3 separate regions of the Homo sapiens genome follow, and regions 2 and 3 are each linked to region 1. The links come from fine-mapping of genetic effects on gene expression. A gene starts in region 1. Each other region holds a variant in brackets. All regions are shown on one strand. Distances are between the middles of the regions.

Region 1 (4,245 bases):
GCTGCTGTTTTCACTATTATTCCTTCTTTTGTGTGGGTATTTTCTTTTGATTTTTAGAATTTTACTTGTAAACATGCTACATATACATATAATTTGGTGCCCTGTTTTTCCATTTACATATTATACTTTCCATATTAGTACATTGTCTGATATTTCTGCATAATACTCAATTCAACTTACCTGCTATTGTTTTTATCATATCTCTATTACAAACATTAGGCCCATTTCCCTTTTTTAAAAGAGGAAAGTTTGAGGTTATGGGCGGTGTTCTGATAAAATAAATAATATTTTGTCATGTTTGTTTTTTCATTGATTAGGAAACATTGTTTTGAATTTAATGCCTCAAATTTGGTGCACAATAATTTGAAGGGAAAAACTGACAAGTTTGAAATGAACATTGATATTACATAATTTACATTAAAATGATACATCTTTTGTAAATTTGTAAGAAGAATAAATAAATGAAAACCTGATTACCTTTCTTATTTGAAGTTTATTTGGGGGGTCAGAATTTGACTTGCTTCTGTATTATTTCACTTTTCAAAAGAATCCGCCAGGAAAGATTAAAATTCATGGTCTTCAAATGAGAAATCAAGTCTTACTTTATTCAAAAGAAAATGTTGGAAGCCCATTTAGAAATGATTTAATATTGAAGTTCCTATAGTGTTAGTTATAAATTCAACCTTGACATTTCTCAAAATTATACAAAGAAGTGGTAGAGTAGAGCTGGGAGTTCATTGGGGCTTGTAGATTTTGCAGGAATTTTTTTTTTTAATGTGTTAAAACAAATTTTATTTACAATAACAGGCAGCAGCGGGATTTGGCCTGGGGATGGAGCAAAGTGACCCCCTGCTGTAGAGCAAGGTGAGTGAGTCACGCCCTTGACAACACATTCTTAGAAGTCATGCTCGTTAGGGGCAAGTTCTGTTTCTTCCACCAACGTCTTCAAGCCTCAGAATCCTTTTCTATCAAACGGGGCTAATAATAGAATACACCATACCTCAGAATTAAGTGAGGCTGTGCAAAAGGTGCTTAATTCTGTGCCTGAAATGTAGCAACAGACAATAAATCCATCTAACAACAAATTCTTATGAAGAAGGTATTACAATAAATTCTTATGAAGAAGTTATTACAATAAATTCAGTGACAAGCAATGATGGCAATGGAAATAAAAATGGAGAAGCAGATGTAATTAAGAGATTTGAGAAGTAAAATTGGCAGTTCCTGGTGACTAAAGCATGTGTTAATGATAGTGATAGTGATATCCTTGGACCATTAGTTGTTCAGCTTTGAATACCCTCCCCAATTTCTCTGCTTATTCTTTTTTTTTTTTTTTTTAGTATTTATTGATCATTCTTGGGTGTTTCTCGGAGAGGGGGATGTGGCAGGGTCATAGGATAATAGTGGAGAGAAGATCAGCAGATAAACACGTGAACAAAGGTCTCTGGTTTTCCTAGGCAGAGGTCCCTGCGGCCTTCCGCAGTGTTTGTGTCCCTGGGTACTTGAGATTAGGGAGTGGTGATGACTTAACGAGCATGCTGCCTTCAAGCATCTGTTTAACAAAGCACATCTTGCAGCGCCCTTAATCCACTTAACCCTGAGTTGACACAGCACATGTTGCAGAGAGAACGGGGTTGGGGGTAAGGTTATAGATTAACAGCATCCCAAGGCGGAAGAATTTTTCTTAGTACAGAACAATATGGAGTCTCCTATTTCTACTTCTTTCTACACAGACACGGTAACAATCTGATCTCTCTCTCTTTTCCCCACATTTCCCCCTTTTCTATTCGACAAAACCGCCATTGTCATCATGGCCCGTTCTCGATGGTCGCTGGATGTTTTATTTTCCAGAGAACCAAACCTTAGCACTGTGCACGCCACACCTGAGGGCGGATTATCCCAGGCCAGCCCAAGTCAGGGCAGGGCTGGAAACTAGGGGCTTGTTGCCCAGCGAACCGCCACAACAGAGAGCGGACTCGATCCTGCGCTCCGGCCGGGCTGACCTGCCTGCGTCCAGCCCCCGCGCCCTGGGCCTGCCTGGGTCTGGATCTGTGTCCGAGTCTGGGTCTGGATCTGGGTCCGAGTCTGGGTCTGGCCCTGCGCTCAGGGCCCGCGGAGGAGACTATGGACCCCGCCGGGCGCGCCCGGGGCCAAGGGGCCACGGCAGGGGGGCTGCTGCTCCGGGCTGCTGCGGCCGCCAAGGGTCTCAGGGAAGACCTGTGGGGCGCGGCCGCCCTGCCTTGGAGGAGCCTGTCCCGGATCCCGAAGCGGGAGGGTCTTGGAGAGGAGGACACAGCAGTTGCCGGACACGAGCTCCGTGAGTCCCGGGACGAGGTCTCAGAAAATCAGGCTGCGGGGCGGGCTGGGTCGAAGGGACTTGAGAAGGTACCCAGAGCAGCACCTCCGGACGCTGCAGGAGGGAAACTGGCGAGGCGACTCAGCCCTGGGACCCCGAGTCCCAGCCTGCACCGCTGCACTCCCTGTTGGCTGGTTTTCAGCTTTGGAATCCACCCCCACCATGTACTGTGGGTGGAAGGACAGTATTATTCTTCCGAATTAAGGAGGAGGCTTTTAAAAATAATGATTAAGTCCTTTTGCAAATAAGAGTTTCATGTGCTCTTATCTCCTATATCGTGACTCATGCTCCGATTTATTGTCTGACTTTAAATAAGTCAGTCACTTAATCTTTCTGCACTTAAGTTTTTAAAGCATGGAGTGGATCATCTATGCCTTGGGAATAATGTGTAGCATAAACTGAGGCAGCTGTTAAGCAGTTCGAAAGCTGAAAGCGATTTAAGTCTGCCCCCGCCCCCCCCCGCCCTCCGCCCCGCCCCCGCCCTCCGCCCCGCGTGTAGGGTCTTGTTGCTCTGTTGCACAGGCTGGAAGGCAGTAGTGCAATCACAGACCTCCTCAGGCTCAGGTGATCCTCCCACCTCAGCCTTCCCAGTACTCAAGCCTCTTAACGGGGCACACCATCCAAGCCTACTGGCTGGGACGGCCTTATTTCCTAAACCAGGCTTGGAAGCTATACACCAATTCATCAATATAGTGTTCATTCAGTCATTCTAGAACTATTTTCAAGGGCTTAACTATTTGCTAGGCATGTTCTAGATGTAGGGTTGGAGAGAACAAGACAACCCCTGTTCTGGTGGAACATTCTGTTGTGGTGGAGGGGTGATAGACAATAAAATAAGTACGCAAATAAATGAATAAGATAATTTAAGGTAAGTGCAGTGAAGGCCATGAGACAGGGTAATGTGGTTGGAGTCAGGCTGCCTGGGACAATTCTATAACTTACAAAGCATGAGCAAGTGGTATAACTTTTGAAGATCTCAGTTTCCTCATCTGTAAAATGGAGGAATCATGCCTACATCAACAGATTATTTGTTTTATATAAACCCTAGGGCATTCTAATAGTTGGAGATCAAGCAAAGGAAAAAGAGCCAGTAGAAAAGACTAGAAAGCGAAAGTTGGTTTACCAGACCTCTAGAGAAGAACATGTTACATGGAGTGTGTGTTCCTCTGTGTCAAAGTTGCCAAGAGCTCAATGCACATGACGGAGGTATGATGACTGGGTTTTGGCAAGGCGGAGTGACCTCAACAAGAGCAGTTTCAGTAGAGGGGTGGGAAAGATGTCTGATTAGCATGGGTTGAGACAAGACTGTGAGATGAAGAAATGGAGACAGCAATTATAGAATACTTAAGTTTGGGGTAATGGAAAGTTGAAAAATGCAGCAGCAGTTGGAAAGGAAGCTGGGGTCAAGGGAGGGTTTTTTATGCATAGGGTATTATGGCATCTCAGTATTTTTTGAGGGGAGTGATCCACTGGAGAGAGATTAAGTGATCTAGAGGAAAGAAGAGATAATTTCCAGGAGATTGACATATGAAACACTTGAAAAGATAAAAGGGGATGGGATCCAGAGCCCAAGTGTAGAGGTTGGCCTTTCCTAGGTACAGGGATGCTTCATCCTGCATATATAAATGAAGGTAGGTTGGTAGACTCACCTAGGTGGGAAGATGTGGGAATTCGTGTCCTATTACTTCTGTTTTCACTATGAGGCAACGGTATTAACTGAGAATTAGGTGATGGTAGTGGGAGGAAGTAAATTACGTAGATTAGTAAATTCAGATATTTGAGGAGAAAGGAAAGGATATGACATGTTGAAGAAGGGAAGACTAGGGAAATGTAGAGGCTAGCTAGTCGTGCTGAGATTAGTGGGGAAGAATTTAAGAGACCTGTTAGCA
Region 2 (4,245 bases), 65 kb after region 1:
CAGCAACAGGCTAAACATATTAAAGAAATAAAGTCCAGTTTCTTTTTTAATTTAAAAAAGTTTTACTTAATTGCTTAAATAAAAAATAACATTAAAATAATTTCTACATATAGTTACAAAGCATGGTAGAGCTTGAAAAAGCCTCTTGTAATTTTGAACAGATGAACATGATGTCTCCATGATGTTCTAACAATATGGAAAAGTTAAAACCAAAAGACTTCTAACCCTTGGTAAGACCAGAGGGATTAAAAGACCCCACTATGGACATATTCACTTTAGTCAACCACTTTTATGGAATGAACACTTGTGAGAGACTGGGTGTGAGCTGATCTGGTTCCAAGTGATCTGGAAGCTGAGGTACTACTTTCAGGATGAATGGTCCGGGGATATTTTGCTGCAGTTGCTTGAGGAATGGTTTGCTGAAAAGACAAAATTCTGCTTTAATAATATCCCAAGATTATGTATACTATGTATCATTTCATCATCTATCATCTATAATTTAACCCAATAAACATTTGTTAAGATCCAGTAGAAAGAAGCAATGAGTGGAGTGAAGCAGCTGTTAATTAGATGAGGCCTTTGTCTGTAAGGAACCCCTACCCAGTCTGACTGACATGTTCAACACCCACAGTGTAATATCAGAGCTATATCCACAAGGCTCATTAAGAAAGCCACGGCAGCCATTCCTCCAACAGGGCCAAGTGGAATCTTGTAATGTGTACAGAGGCTTTGTATACAGAGAGAAACTCTGTGGTGTCTGGAAGAGGGGTCAGCCCTGAGTCCTCCCCTCATTCCATCCAACTTCCTTCTCTCTACTTGACTGTTAGTATGTGGATGTGATTATCTCACAATCCCAGGGGCACACGGAAGCCCTCAGGATGCAGTCTGGTCCTTGCTTTAAACCAGAGCCCTCATATTTAACCTGGTTCACCTGGGAGCAGACTAAAACTTTTATGCACATCACCTCAGAGCTCAAAGGAACACCTCAGACATGAGCACTGAGTCATTAAAGTCAGGACACACGTGACTTACTTGACACACATAATATGCATGTAATGCATGTAAGTACACACTATGTATACAAGTACACATTTACATGTAAACATGAACAATATGTATCAGTACAAGGCTTTTCCCTATTAAACCCGATAAAGCTTCTTAGTAGCCAGCAGTGGGATTTGTTATCAAGTTCTCAGTCCATATCACTGACTAGGACATGTCAATTTCTATTAGGGTCTTCCACTTAGAAAAGTCATTGTTAAAATAGTTTAAGTAAAATTACATGTATTTGGTCAAAACATTCACTATGTATTTAAAAAACTCCAAGCTGTAGTTTTTGCTTAAAAAAAGAATGAAACTTCTTAAAAACAAAAGATCCTGTCAGATTCCATTTTAAAAAGAACAGAACTCCTTTTTAAAGAAAAATAACTTCTTTTCTTAAAGTATCTTATAAAAACGTTTATTTGTACATAAACAACTGGATAACCATTATAAATAGGAGATACTCTTGCAACAGATAAGAAATTTTAGTTGCCAGTCACCTAATTAGTTGCCAGCCACTAACCTGAGCCTGCCAAAAAGGCTTTCTCCTTGAGGAGGATGGGCAAGAGGAACTGTAGAAATAAAGTAGCCACTGAAATTATGATACACAAAATATGACAGAGAATGAAGTGGCCCTAGAAGCATGCAGTTACCCAGCAGATGAGGCTACAGTGTCACAAATCGCATCCTTGGTTTTTTAGTAATAACTATTTCTGGTAGATTTAGATCTTGATTCCCAGGGTGAAAAGAAATACAGTACAAATGACTGCCACTGTGTCTGTCACATAATCCAGGCAGCTGATGGCTATCTGGTTCATAC[A/G]CAGTTAGTGGGTAAGAAATGCACATACTGAATAAAGGGAGGGCAGCATGGGAGATAAGTATCAGAAACAAGGGTTCTAAATGTTTAGTACTTTGATTTTTCTTCTGTAAAATATGAATTCCCATCATTACTACAAAACAAAAGCTTGTCTAATAAAAAATAAACACACATGTGCTCTCTTTACACCTTCTTTACCTCACAAATGGACAGTCTCTCACCATCTCTATACATTTTCTACATCTGAAAAAACAGAAGTGGGTTTATTTCTTCTCATTTTTGATAACTTGTCTTCCATATTCAAAAATATATAGAAAAGTCTTCTACGAACTTTCAGAGTCTGTCCAACTTATGAAACATGAAACCTAAGATAATTCTAAAATAAATCCTCTGTCATCTCCATGTCTCTATCTGGACTTGGTGCTTCTATCTCCAGCCTTCCACCTCGCTAAGGTCCCACTTCACCTGAAGTTCAGTTCAAATCAATCCAGCTTGTCTTCATTTAATCATCTAGTGCCCAGCTAGTACTCGGGAAAAAAGGATTTAAAATCATTCCATATACTTTTTTTTTGCTAATACTTAGAAAGTACACAGGAACGTTGTCCGATGCTGAGAATTTATAGAGGGCATTCTCTTTTAAAATCAGTCCCTGAAATCAGCTGGGGGTGGTGGCGGGTGCCTGTAATCCCAGCTACTCGGGAGGCTGAGGCAGGAGAATTGTTTGAACCCAGGGGGCGGAGATTGCAGTGCGCCAACATTGCGCCATTGCACTCTATCTAGCCTGGGAGACAAGAGAGAAACTCTGTCTCAAAAAAAAAAATAAATAAAAAATAAATAAATAAATAAATAAATAAATCCTTGTTTTTCTTTAGGGATGTTCTTATCACTCTTATTATACTTTTTGAGATAATTGTTGATTCGTACACATTTGTAGGAAATAATTCAGAGATATCTCATGTATCTTTTTCTAGTAACTTTCAGTAAGTTAAATTTGCTTATGGTTTTATAGTTTATAAAATGCCTTAATACATCTCGTTTAATTTTCACATTATCTCATTTAATCTTGAATCCTAACAATAACCCAAGGAGCTAACTATTTTTATTAACCCCATTTTACAGAAGAGAAAGTGGAGGCTCAAATATTTTACTTGATTTGTATATATCACAAAGCCAACAAGTAGCAAAGCTGAAGCACTAACTCGGGTTTTAAAATTTTTGCTTCAAATTCAATGCACCTTCTTTATATCACATGCATTTACTGCAAGTTGAATTTTGTTAAACTAAAAACATGCTGACAATTGTACTGAAAAAAGGGGAAGACTTTTTTTAAAAAAGGACCAAAAATTAAAAACTATAAATGTAGGGGAGTTTTCTTGTAATCAAATATCTGCTACATGAGCAGCTAGTGAGTGAACAATTTTTGTCTCTTTTTAAACTGATAATAAAGCATTTACATATTTTACTCTTTTGACCACAAACACACTGGATTACTTTTAGTATTTTATAATTTTTACAGTTTGGAAGAAACGATGTTTCTGAAATTAATTTCCCAACAGCAGAAACGTAGATTTATAGCAGGTTTGAGAAAAACAAGTATATATATTAAAAAAAAAAAAAAAACTGTAACAGGAAAAGGCAGAACAAGTACCAGTCATCATAAATTTTTATCTTCTCAACATGTTATGTAAGTGTTTACTAGTCTATGAACTCTCAGGAAAAAGACTTTTTGACAAAAGGTCATCAAATGTGGACTCACCACTGTGACTGGATGATGTTTTTCCACAACAACTGAGCTCATGGGAGGAGAAACTCCCATTATAGCTAAACTGCTGCTAATTCTATTTTTTGAAGCAAAATCACATCTTCCTGTGATCCGGGCTGTAATAGTTCTTCCTGCTTTCTGTTGTGCAGAGGTTACAACTCTTGGCACATACTAAGAAGAAAAAAAAATAAAAGAAGTAACAAGGTGGCAGAAAATCCACAGCAAAATCTATTGATTCCATAAATTATGAAGAATACACAGGCACTTAAAATAACTGTATGTTCAACCAACTTTAACATGGAAAAAACAAAATCACAAGACGAAAAGCAAAACAAAACTGAACACCCCAAAATATCCCTTTAACCTGAGTATGCCAACGATTTTATAAGATTTTAGAAACTTAAAAAACCAACTTTTTTTTTTTAAATGATAGATTTATAGAAAGACACAGAGATCATATTGAAAAGTACTGTGTGCTCTTCACCCAGTTTCCTGCCATGGTTACATCTGACATAATTAGAATATAACAAAGTCAAAACCAGGAAGCTCACCATGAGATAATGCCTGTGTATAGATCTCTGTCATTTTATCACCTAAGTTCCTGTTAACTATCACTCAATCAAGA
Region 3 (4,245 bases), 47 kb after region 1:
TTTCCTTCTGTAACTCTCACTCCATCTCCATGACCACACACATACTTTCGTCTTTCTCAGCCACACAACTGGAGTTCAGCCATTGCGTGATTAAATCCTTCATGTTTAACAGGCCCAGCATTTTTGATAGAAAAACAGTAGCTCAGAGCTAAATGGCCAGAGGCTCTTTAAATCAAAAGCCACTCCCCCAGAGTGAAATATTGTAATTGGCAGGGAGCCTTTCCCCCACAAGAAGGAAGCTTTGTTTCTATATTAAAGACAGTAAATGTATCTTCTCTTTACCTAAAGGCAAAAGAGGCCTCTTGGAATAAAAGAAAAATCACTCCAATTTCAGTCAACTGGAGCAGAATCAAATGACTCGTTAAAGTAATCCATCACTGGCTGGAAATGGGAATGCCGCAACGGAATGATGAAGGGAATGGGGGTGGGCACTGAATGAGCCTGCTCTCTGGGGCTCTTCTGGGGCTGGCCTGCCCTCTTCCAGGATATGTAGGGGAGTGGGAAGAGGAGCCTTTCCAGGGTCCCGAGGCCAGATGAGACCTTCTGGCTGCCTCTTCCCAGAGAAGGCTCTGCGGTGCCCTTCCGGCTAGGGAGGAGCCATGGTGCAGTGGGCATGCCTGCCTGTCCTAATACACTGTGAAACCAGAGCGTTGACTCAGATCTCTGCAGTCTCCTCCAATTCCCACCTATGAGCTCAATTTTGCTCTGAGCTGAATGAAGATTTACCTGTACTTCGGTCCCTTCTCTCCTCCAGGGAACCTAGCCTCCTCCCCTGCCTTTACCTATCCCAAAAGTTTTTCTGGGGAAAAAAACCAATCTCCTTTTGTTATTAAATATACTTATGTATTCAACTACGTTAATATCTAAAATCTTTCCCAATGGGCAAAATCTTTGCTGAACACAGAGGCAGAGCTTCGTGCTCACATGTGATATTGGTTTTGACAGAACTGGCTAGATGTACTCTAGGGAAGGAGTGTTTGTTAGGTTTGCTATCCTTTTTCAGAACCAGACTTCATCACTTTAATTTTTTTATTAGACCAAGAATACACATAAAAAATAGGAAATTTTATATTTTAAATATAAAATATGTATGTAAAATTAAAAATATAAGCTAAAAAAACTTAATGTGTTTGAAGTCCCCAGCAAAGAAAGATAACTCTTCTTAATGTTTTAGTGCATTTCCTGCCTTCTAGACTTGTAGCAGTATTGTTAAAATGGGTTTTGTTGCATTTGATACATTCCATTTTCATCTGTTCCATGTTGGTACAGATCTTTGATAGGTTTGTCAGTATAAGTGTAATGTCTTGAATGACAAACACCTAGACACACTGCCATTTGAAGGTGAGTCTTTAAGAAATGCTTTTTGGGGCCGGGCGTGGTGGCTCATGCCTGTAATCCCAACACTTTGGGAGGCTGAGGCGGGCGGATCATGAGGTCAGGAGTTTGAGACAAGCCTGGCCAATATAGTGAAACCCTGTCTCTACTAAAAATGCAAAAAATTAGCTGGGCGCCTGTAATCCCAGCTACTTGGGAGACTGAGGCAGAAGAATTGCTTGAACCCAGGAGGTGGAGGTTGTAGTGAGCTGAGATCGCCACCACTGCACTCCAGCCTGGGCAACAGAGTGAGACTCCATCTCAAGAAAAAAAAAAAAAAAGAAATACTTTTTGGAAGCCAGGTGTTTTGGGTCACACCTGTAATCCCAACACTTTGGGTGGCCAAGATAGGAGGATTGCCTGAGGCCAGGAGTTTGAAACCAGCCTGGGCAACATAGTGAGGCCTCATCGCTAAAAAAAAAAAAAAATTAGTAGAGCCTGTAGTCTCAGCTACTCAGGAAACTGAGAAGGGAGGATTGCTTGAGCCCAGGAGTTCGAGGTTACAGTGAGCTACTATCATGCTACTGCATTCCAGTCTGAGTGACAGAGTAAGAAACTGTCTCTAAGAAAAAAATTAAAATATAAATAAATATATAAATGTTTTTTGGTAATATCCCCAGCATATTGGCCCTGTGCTCTGGTAGGAAGAGTAGTGGGCCACATGCCATTGCCCAGCTCTGTGAGTCTGGGGTAGTTGCTTCCCTTTCTGGTTAAGGAGTTGGGCTAGATCACATCAAAGGATCCTCTCTGCCCTAATATTTTAGAAATCTCTTCACATCTGCATTCCTTTTGGTGAGAGGTTAAGACGGGTGATTTTCTTGTGATTTCAGATATTTCTTTTGAAACTCTTATCCTCTTGATAGGAAAATGATTACTCCAGAAGGAAATTTGAAGTCTTGGACTCCTTTATACATTATAACGTAGAAAATTTAGAGAACAGAAATGCATTGAGAAGGCAATAAAAATAAACTCTAATCCCTTCATCTAGACCTTATCATTAGCATTTTTCTGTACTGTATTTTTGTCTCTTTCTCTATGTGTATTTTTCATTAAATCAAGCTCAACTAGATAGTATCATTTCCTAAAGTTTCAAATGTTATATCAAAAGCGTCTTTTATTTTTAAAAAATCTTCGAAATAATTTTTATTGTAGTAAAATACACATAAAATCCACC[A/T]TTTTAACCATCTTAAGTGTACAGTTCAGCAGCATTAATTACATTCATTTGGTATAATATCACCACCATCCATCTTCAGAACATTTTTCATCTTCCCAAACTGAAATTTTATATCTATTAAACGGTAACTTCCCATTCCCTCCTCCAGCTCCTGGGAACCACCATTCTACTTTCTGTCTCTATATATTTGACTACTTTAGGTACCTAATATTGAAATCATTTTTAAAAAAATAATTTTTAATGGTTGCCTGTTATTCCAATATATAGATTATCATAATTTATCTAGTGAGTCTCCTTGTTAAACATGTAATTTCCTTTCAGTTTTTCACTATTGCAAATAATAATGCAATGAATGCCCCAGTATCCATTAAAAAATATATGACCTGTGTTTTCCCTTGAACCTAAATAGGATGGCTATACTTTCCATTTGTCTTTTCACCGTCCAAGTTTGTTCCCCTCCTTAATTTCATGGCAGAAGCAGCAAACCCCTCTGCATGTAGCTGCTGATCGTGGAAATGTGGAACTGGTGGAAACCCTGCTGAAGGCAGGCTGTGACTTGAAGGCTGTTGACAAGGTAAGTGCATGGACTTTACTCCATTCAGCTGAGATGGTTGCTAAGACCTTCCTGTTGGATGTCAGCCTTGAGCAGCGTTATTGGAATATCCTTTGTGAAATGGGCACAAACTGGAGAAACCATGCATCTTCATAGTCAGTAAAATACCCCAATTTTGGTTGAGCTATGTCAGTAAAAATTTTTACTCTGAAGAAAAAATATGTGTTTTTAAATTCAAATTCTGAAAAGATTATAGATTCGTATGGTCCAGAAATAAAAGAATATAATTAGTAAGGGTTTAACAGTAAAAATTTCCCACCCACCCCTGTTCCTACTTGTCTGGTTACCATACTACCCCGCTTATATATATCCATTATTATAAATTATTTCTGTTCCTTCCAGAGTTTTTTATGCATATGCAAGCAAACATAAACACATTTTACTCTTATTCCCTTCCTCCTTCCTTTTTAGACACTGATGGCATACCTATAACTAGTATACTGTTCTGCATTTAGCTTTTTTAGCATTATTAAGTGGAGATATTACTACATGGAGAGTTTCTTCATTCTTTTTTTTTTTAGAGCTGCATAGTATAGCGTGGCACAGACATATCACAACTTGTTCAGCTAGTCCTCACTTGATTGACATTTAAGTTGTTCCTAAGGTTTTGCTCTTATAAACATAGCTGCAATGAATGACTTTACATATGTCTAAACTTGTTTTTTTAAATTAAAAAATTTGTGGTAAAATACACACACATAAACACTGTCTTAACCATTTTTATGTATATAGTTCAGTATGGTTAAGCATATTCACATTGTTATGCAATTGGTCTCCAAAACTTTCATCTTGCAAAAGTGAAACTTTACACTTATTCAATAACTTGCCATTTCTTCCTTCTCCCAGCCCCTGGGAACCACCATTCTACTTTCTGTTTCTATGAATTTGACCACTCTAAGTACCTCATATAAGTGGAATCACATAGTATTTGCCTTTTTGTGACTGGCTTAGTTCACTTAGCGTAACGTCTTCAAGGTTTATCTATGTTGTAGCATGTGTCAGAATTTCATTTCTTTTCAAAGCTAAATAACATTTCATTGTATGTCTATACCACATTTTGTTCATTCATTCATCCATCGATGGA

Which allele goes with the higher level. Positions count from the first base shown, and alleles are read on the strand shown. Sizes are in standard deviations (SD) of each study's normalised expression. Not every link is listed here.
In carriers of allele G in region 2, the expression in tibial nerve of the gene that starts at base 1,943 in region 1 tends to be higher than with A alone (moderate effect, 0.45 SD a copy in GTEx).

The links. PIP is the estimated chance that this variant, and not a neighbour inherited with it, causes the effect.
Region 2: its variant is the best candidate, but not a certain one, in a credible set for the expression of ANKDD1B in tibial nerve (GTEx, PIP 0.89).
Region 3: its variant is the best candidate, but not a certain one, in a credible set for the expression of ANKDD1B in T cells (TOPMed, PIP 0.59).

What each region holds. Positions count from the first base shown.
Region 1 is chr5:75,609,511-75,613,755 of GRCh38, forward strand. It overlaps ANKDD1B (ankyrin repeat and death domain containing 1B), which reads left to right and starts at 1,943. Exons shown (of 14, transcript NM_001276713.2): 1 at 1,943-2,317. The coding sequence starts at 2,125. It overlaps POLK (DNA polymerase kappa), which reads left to right. Exons shown (of 15, transcript NM_016218.6): 15 at 1-481. RefSeq lists enhancers at 629-1,436, 1,437-2,243, 2,244-3,050.
Region 2 is chr5:75,674,160-75,678,404 of GRCh38, forward strand. It overlaps POC5 (POC5 centriolar protein), which reads right to left. Exons shown (of 12, transcript NM_001099271.2): 11 at 3,615-3,791; 12 at 1-419. The coding sequence ends at 276. Among named protein-coding and RNA genes, the nearest start is that of POC5, 41 kb to the right of the region's middle. The variant A/G (reference allele first, on the strand shown) is at 1,862.
Region 3 is chr5:75,656,260-75,660,504 of GRCh38, forward strand. It overlaps ANKDD1B (ankyrin repeat and death domain containing 1B), which reads left to right. Exons shown (of 14, transcript NM_001276713.2): 10 at 3,024-3,122. Among named protein-coding and RNA genes, the nearest start is that of ANKDD1B, 47 kb to the left of the region's middle. The variant A/T (reference allele first, on the strand shown) is at 2,549.